Linked DNA regions of Homo sapiens. The protein of the gene in region 1 interacts with the protein of each later gene in a pairwise test. Each region holds a gene or a part of one and is shown on either strand. Other genes may lie near its edges.

The links.
Region 2: the proteins of APEH (region 1) and LGALS8 interact in binary tests that used the Homo sapiens proteins (3 or more experiments, as listed by UniProt).

Annotation. Positions count from the first base shown.
Region 1 is NC_000003.12:49,672,648-49,676,559, forward strand, and holds the start of APEH (acylamino-acid-releasing enzyme), read left to right. Parts: upstream 1-1,754; coding exon 1,755-1,766; intron 1,767-1,841; coding exon 1,842-1,974; intron 1,975-2,535; coding exon 2,536-2,662; intron 2,663-3,046; coding exon 3,047-3,140; intron 3,141-3,243; coding exon 3,244-3,319; intron 3,320-3,408; coding exon 3,409-3,572; intron 3,573-3,730; coding exon 3,731-3,868; intron 3,869-3,912. UniProt on the Homo sapiens protein: This enzyme catalyzes the hydrolysis of the N-terminal peptide bond of an N-acetylated peptide to generate an N-acetylated amino acid and a peptide with a free N-terminus. It preferentially cleaves off Ac-Ala, Ac-Met and Ac-Ser.
Region 2 is NC_000001.11:236,547,773-236,551,684, forward strand, and holds part of LGALS8 (galectin-8), read left to right. Parts: exon of another isoform or gene 1-189; intron 190-239; coding exon 240-389; 3' UTR 390-3,129; coding exon of another isoform or gene 3,130-3,218; 3' UTR 3,219-3,912. Other genes in the region: HEATR1 (HEAT repeat-containing protein 1), read right to left, coding at 3,130-3,218.

The DNA.
Region 1 (3,912 bases):
TTTTTGTATTTTTAGTAGAGACAGGGTTTCTCCATGTTGGCCAAGCTGATCCCGAACTCCTGGCCTCAGGTGATCCACCCGCCTCAGCCTCCCAAAGTGCTAGGATTATAGGCGTGAGCCACCGCGCCTGGCACTTTTTTTTTTTTTTTTTTAAGATGGACTCTGGCTGTCGCCCAGGATGGAGTGCAGTGGCGCGATCTCGGCTCACTGCAAGCTCCGCCTCCCGGGTTCACACCATTCTCCTGCCTCAGCCTCCCGAGTAACTGGGACTACAGGCGCCTGCCACCATGCCCAGCTAATTTTTTGTATTTTTAGTAGAGACAGGGTTTCACCGTGTTAGCCAGGATGGTCTCGATCTCCTGACCTCGTGATCCGCCCGCCTCGGCCTTCCAAAGTGCAGGGATTACAGGCGTGAGCCACCGCGCCCGGCCGGCCGGGACTTTTTTTTTTTTTTTTTTTTTTTTTTTTACTTAACTAGTTATCTTGAGTAAGTAATGATGCGGCTGATGGGAAAGGGGAAGCTACAGGCCAGACAAGTGGACTCTCAATCACAAGCACGCCATGGAGCAGGGAGCCAGGGCCCTGAATGTGGAAGACCAGCCAGACTCAGGTATATGGAGGGAACATCCTTACTGTCCAGCCTCTCCTGATCTCTGTTGGCACCTTAGCCCAGCCAATCCTGTACCACGTGCACAGGGAACCTGCCTGCCTAGGTTTTTTCCACAGGAAGCTCCCTGGTCCTGGGTGGAGTCTGAGCCCACCAGGCCTTTCACACCCAAGAGCTCAGGGTGAGGCCTGGGGAGGAAGGCAGGGACCCACCAGCTCACGGTCCCCAACAAGGTGCCACTGAGAAGGCTGGGTAAAGGCTGCGGGGATAGATAGCTCTTGCGGCAGGCCTGGCGACTGATAAGTCCGGGCAGCACCCTAAGAGTTGGCACCCGCCCCTCTGCCCCGCACCCCAGGGCTTTGCTTCGCGCCCTCCGCCCGGACCCTGGCCCTTCTCTTCTTCGTCTGCGTGGAACTCCCTCCAGGGCAGGGCCTGGCACTGTGTAGTGAATGTCGGCCTCGTGGTGGACCCGAAGGAACCCTACAGTCAGCCCCAGAGCCGCGGGAGATCCACGCTGCGGCCGGCTCCGCCCCGCCCAACCCTCACCCTCACGCTCACGCTCACGCTCACGCTCACGCTCACGCTCACAGGCTCCCGGCTCCACATTCCTCGCAGGGCTCCAATCCGGACCCGCCCGCCTTGCCCTTCATCCTCAAAGACTCATTGGTCCCATTCCCCTCGGGCCCCGCCCTTCGCGTGCTTGGGCCATGCCCGTCCGACCGCGCTGCTTCCGCCTTGCAGCACCCCCTCAACCCCTTCTCTCGTAGGCCCTTCTACCCTCCCCGAAGCCGGGCTCCCGGGTTCCGCTTCCACAGGGCCGCCCCCTCTCCTCCGAGATCCAACGCCTCGCCCCTCGGTAAGAGGCCCAGGACTCAGCCCACGGCCCCGCCCCCCACTTGGCTAGTCCGCCCCTGGCGAGACCCCTGCTCTCACCCACCCAGGACTTCTCGCTCCCAGGCCGGGTCCTCTCACCGTCAAGGCCCGCCCCCTGCCAACGGTCCTCACCCATTAGCCGAAGGCCCCGCCCCTCACAGATTGCCGCAGGGCAGGGGCGGAGACAGCCCGGGCCGTCCCAGGCTCCGCCCCCGGAAGCCTCACTTCCGGGCGCGAGCACGCCCCGCCTCGCCCCGGCGGCAGAGAGGAGACTATGGAACGTCAGGTGAGGGCTCGGCCCGCGGTCCCCGTGGTCCCTGCAGCCCGGGCCGGGCCTGACCCTGGTGTGTCCCCTGCGCAGGTGCTGCTGAGCGAGCCCGAGGAGGCGGCGGCTCTGTATCGGGGCCTTAGCCGCCAGCCCGCGCTGAGCGCCGCCTGCCTGGGCCCGGAGGTCACCACGCAGTACGGCGGCCAATACCGGACGGTGCACACTGGTGTGTGTGCGAAGGGGAACTGGCTGGCGACGGGGTCGCGCACTGGGGTGGGAAGGAAGGGGGTGTGGAGGGCTCGCTGCTTGACAGTGCGTAAGGGTATATAGGGAGCCGGCCTGGACTTGGAGGTTACACTCCCACAGGTCCCTGCACACAGGTGTGTGGAGGGGGGGAGGGGGCGTGCGGGGCGTTATCGAATGGCGGCCATGAGTGCACGAGATGACGGCGTAGGGGTAGAAGTCAAACCTGGGCTCAGGGCGTGGACCTTGTAGGGCTCTCCACCAACACGCCATCCCATACACATGCCAGGCTGCCCTCAAGATTCCAGGGTGGATGCTGGGGTTACTAGGGGGTTCTCTCAAAGAGGCTGTCAGCTCAGGCTCTGGAGGCCTGGACTAGGGTTGTGGCCAAGTGTTGTCCAGCCTGCAGCCAGGGTGTCAGTGTCTGGAGACAGATTGAGAGATTGGGGAAGATAGATCTAGGCCTTCCTGGGTCAGGTGGGGCTGGGGGCAGTAGCCAGGAGTAGCCAAGACAAGGTGAGCAGTCTCATGCCTCCCCTCACAGAGTGGACCCAGAGGGACCTGGAACGCATGGAGAACATTCGATTCTGCCGCCAATACCTGGTGTTCCATGACGGGGACTCAGTGGTGTTTGCAGGACCTGCAGGCAACAGTGTGGAGACCCGGGGGGAGTAAGTTTGAGGGAGGAAGCTTGTGGGCAAGGCCACAGCCGTCCGCAATGCAAGCCTTTTATGAATGCTCACCATGTGCCTAGAAGGGAGGCCAGCAGCCAGGTTCTTGCCCCCTTGGGAGCTCATTCAGTTTCTGGTGACATGGCCTGATAAGCACTGGAAGCTTGCTCCAAACTCAGCCTGGACTAGAGCCCATGGTGGCCTGGGGAGTTGCAGAGAGTAGAGTCTCTGCCTCAGGGAGGAAAGGCAAGGTGGGGCTAGAGGTGCTCCAGAAGCTGGTGTGGGGCCAGAGCCTCAAGAATCTCTCCTAAGAGGTGTGCCCAGTAGGGAGCAGGAAGGGGTTATTGCAAGATAATCCTGACCTGTGCTACCCCATGTCCACAGACTGCTGAGCAGAGAGTCTCCTTCAGGCACCATGAAAGCTGTGCTGCGCAAGGCTGGAGGCACGGGCCCTGGGGAAGAGAAGCAGTTCCTGGAGGTGAGTCTGCATGGGACCAGGTAGTGGGTGACAAGAGAGAGGCTCTGCCCCACAGATAAGGCTCTGTTAGCGGGCAAACAGCCTAATGCCCAGATGTCCTCAGGTCTGGGAGAAGAACCGGAAGCTCAAGAGCTTCAACCTGTCAGCGCTGGAGAAACATGGGCCTGTTTATGAGGATGGTGAGGCATCTGGCTGGTGAGCAGGCAGGGTGGACAGGAGGGGTAGCCGTAGCCCTGGGCCCCCCCTGATTGGCCCTCCCTGCACCCAGACTGCTTTGGCTGCCTGTCCTGGTCGCACTCGGAGACACACTTGTTGTATGTGGCAGAGAAGAAGCGCCCCAAGGCCGAGTCCTTCTTTCAGACCAAAGCCTTGGACGTCAGTGCCAGCGATGATGAGATAGCCAGGCTGAAGAAGCCAGACCAAGCCATCAAGGTGCTCGTGGTCAATCCACGAAGGCCCGGCAGGGCAGCCCTGGGGCTCAGTGTGCTCCCTTCCCATACTGTGCCTGTCAGACCTGGGGAGGCACTAGCTTTTAGGAAGCAGAGCAGGTCCTATAGACAGGCTGGGCATTGAGTATCTTGTGTTCTCAGGGGGATCAGTTTGTGTTTTATGAAGACTGGGGAGAAAACATGGTTTCCAAAAGCATCCCTGTGCTCTGCGTGCTGGATGTCGAGAGTGGCAACATCTCTGTGCTTGAGGGGGTCCCTGAGAATGTGTCCCCTGGACAGGTCAGCAGCAACAGCCTGTGTCCCCCCTGGAGTCTGGGACCCTT
Region 2 (3,912 bases), on another chromosome or scaffold:
ATGGTGTGAGGCTCCAAACATGTCCGAGTCACTTCCCTGGGTGGGATGAGGCAGACAGTGCCACCACCAGGGACACTTTAGTTAGATTAGGGTCTTGGAAGTCAGAAGGAAGTCAGCAGCAGCAGGCTGGAACTTTTCTATGTATAATCAAATGGTTTACTCTGACACCGTTAGCATGTAACAAACACAAAATTTTAAACTAAGGGGAACCACTAATGGCATGTATCCTTTCCTTTCAGATGATAATTTATTGTGATGTTAGAGAATTCAAGGTTGCAGTAAATGGCGTACACAGCCTGGAGTACAAACACAGATTTAAAGAGCTCAGCAGTATTGACACGCTGGAAATTAATGGAGACATCCACTTACTGGAAGTAAGGAGCTGGTAGCCTACCTACACAGCTGCTACAAAAACCAAAATACAGAATGGCTTCTGTGATACTGGCCTTGCTGAAACGCATCTCACTGTCATTCTATTGTTTATATTGTTAAAATGAGCTTGTGCACCATTAGGTCCTGCTGGGTGTTCTCAGTCCTTGCCATGAAGTATGGTGGTGTCTAGCACTGAATGGGGAAACTGGGGGCAGCAACACTTATAGCCAGTTAAAGCCACTCTGCCCTCTCTCCTACTTTGGCTGACTCTTCAAGAATGCCATTCAACAAGTATTTATGGAGTACCTACTATAATACAGTAGCTAACATGTATTGAGCACAGATTTTTTTTGGTAAAACTGTGAAGAGCTAGGATATATACTTGGTGAAACAAACCAGTATGTTCCCTGTTCTCTTGAGCTTCGACTCTTCTGTGCGCTACTGCTGCGCACTGCTTTTTCTACAGGCATTACATCAACTCCTAAGGGGTCCTCTGGGATTAGTTATGCAGATATTAAATCACCCGAAGACACTAACTTACAGAAGACACAACTCCTTCCCCAGTGATCACTGTCATAACCAGTGCTCTACCGTATCCCATCACTGAGGACTGATGTTGACTGACATCATTTTCTTTATCGTAATAAACATGTGGCTCTATTAGCTGCAAGCTTTACCAAGTAATTGGCATGACATCTGAGCACAGAAATTAAGGCAAAAAACCAAAGCAAAACAAATACATGGTGCTGAAATTAACTTGATGCCAAGCCCAAGGCAGCTGATTTCTGTGTATTTGAACTTAGGGCAAATCAGAGTCTACACAGACGCCTACAGAAAGTTTCAGGAAGAGGCAAGATGCATTCAATTTGAAAGATATTTATGGGCAACAAAGTAAGGTCAGGATTAGACTTCAGGCATTCATAAGGCAGGCACTATCAGAAAGTGTACGCCAACTAAGGGACCCACAAAGCAGGCAGAGGTAATGCAGAAATCTGTTTTGTTCCCATGAAATCACCAATCAAGGCCTCCGTTCTTCTAAAGATTAGTCCATCATCATTAGCAACTGAGATCAAAGCACTCTTCCACTTTACGTGATTAAAATCAAACCTGTATCAGCAAGTTAAATGGTTCCATTTCTGTGATTTTTCTATTATTTGAGGGGAGTTGGCAGAAGTTCCATGTATATGGGATCTTTACAGGTCAGATCTTGTTACAGGAAATTTCAAAGGTTTGGGAGTGGGGAGGGAAAAAAGCTCAGTCAGTGAGGATCATTTTATCACATTAGACTGGGGCAGAACTCTGCCAGGATTTAGGAATATTTTCAGAACAGATTTTAGATATTATTTCTATCCATATATTGAAAAGAATACCATTGTCAATCTTATTTTTTTAAAAGTACTCAGTGTAGAAATCGCTAGCCCTTAATTCTTTTCCAGCTTTTCATATTAATGTATGCAGAGTCTCACCAAGCTCAAAGACACTGGTTGGGGGTGGAGGGTGCCACAGGGAAAGCTGTAGAAGGCAAGAAGACTCGAGAATCCCCCAGAGTTATTTTTCTCCATAAAGACCATCAGAGTGCTTAACTGAGCTGTTGGAGACTGTGAGGCATTTAGGAAAAAAATAGCCCACTCACATCATTCCTTGTAAGTCTTAAGTTCATTTTCATTTTACGTGGAGGAAAAAAATTTAAAAAGCTATTAGTATTTATTAATGAATTTTACTGAGACATTTCTTAGAAATATGCACTTCTATACTAGCAAGCTCTGTCTCTAAAATGCAAGTTGGCCTTTTGCTTGCCACATTTCTGCATTAAACTTCTATATTAGCTTCAAAGGCTTTTAAACTCAATGCGAACATTCTACGGGATGTTCTTAGATGCCTTTAAAAAGGGGGCAGATCTAATTTTATTTGAACCCTCACTTTCCAACTTCACCATGACCCAGTACTAGAGATTAGGGCACTTCAAAGCATTGAAAAAAATCTACTGATACTTACTTTCTTAGACAAGTAGTTCTTAGTTAACCACCAATGGAACTGGGTTCATTCTGAATCCTGGAGGAGCTTCCTCGTGCCACCCAGTGTTTCTGGGCCCTCTGTGTGAGCAGCCAGGTGTGAGCTGTTTTAGAAGCAGCGTGTTGCCTTCATCTCTCCCGTTTCCCAAAAGAACAAAGGATAAAGGTGACAGTCACACTCCTGGGTTAAAAAAAGCATTCCAGAACCACTTCTCTTTATGGGCACAACAAAGAAACGAAGGCTGAAGTTCGCCTACCCAAAATGAAAAGTAGGCTTTACAGTCAAAAGTACTTCTGTTGATTGCTAAATAACTTCATTTTCTTGAAATAGAGCAACTTTGAGTGAAATCTGCAACATGGATACCATGTATGTAAGATACTGCTGTACAGAAGAGTTAAGGCTTACAGTGCAAATGAGGCGTCAGCTTTGGGTGCTAAAATTAACAAGTCTAATATTATTACCATCAATCAGGAAGAGAATAATAAATGTTTAAACAAACACAGCAGTCTGTATAAAAATACCGTGTATCATTTACTCTTTCTGCAGCTCTATACGATAGGCAGGAGAGGCTTATGTGGCAGCACAAGCCAGGTGGGGATTTTGTAAAGAAGTGATAAAACATTTGTAAGTAATCCAAGTAGGTGTATTAAGGCACCAAAAGTAACATGGCACCCAACACCCAAAAATAAAAATATGAAATATGAGTGTGAACTCTGAGTAGAGTATGAAACACCACAGAAAGTCTTAGAAATAGCTCTGGAGTGGCTCTCCCAGGACAGTTTCCAGTTGCTGAATAGTCTTTTGGCACTGATGTTCTACTTCTTCACATTCATCTAAAAAAAAAAAAAAAAAATCAAAATTAAAATCTGAGTCAGTCCGCCTGCCTCGGTTCTCATTAGTTTAATTCTTAATGCCTTGCACTTTCCGGCAATCATTCAATCAAAAGAGTGAAATGAAGCACATTAACAAAGCAGGAGGCGCCACGGACCGCCTCCCTCCACACCGCTCCTTCCGCCTTCATTCCTTGCCCACAGGCTTGCACTGGAAGCTGAATAAGAATCCCCAAAACTCAAACTTCCTAGGGATGCCACCCCTTTAGTAGCTCACACCTCCCCCCTCCAAGAGCTAAGAAACAAAGGAGAATGTACTTTTGTAGCTTAGATAAGCAATGAATCAGTAAAGGACTGATCTACTTGCTCCACCACCCCTCCCTTAATAATAACATTTACTGTTATTTCCTGGGCCTAAGACTCTATGTTCCAGAACTGTCACAGCTCCCCATGTCACACTCACTAGCTTGTGATCTTTGTCAAATAACTGAAATCTTTTAAGCCTCTAGTTTCTTCCTTTGTAAAACAGAGATAAAATGTTGTGGTTTTTAAGTGAGATAATCCAAGTAAAGCACCTAACATGGAGTAGTGAATGAACATCGGTTGCTACTAAAAGTGGACATCCTACTGCATCCTTAATGCCACTAGGCATTTCCATACAATCTGGGGACCAAAACTTCAATCATATAAATGTATG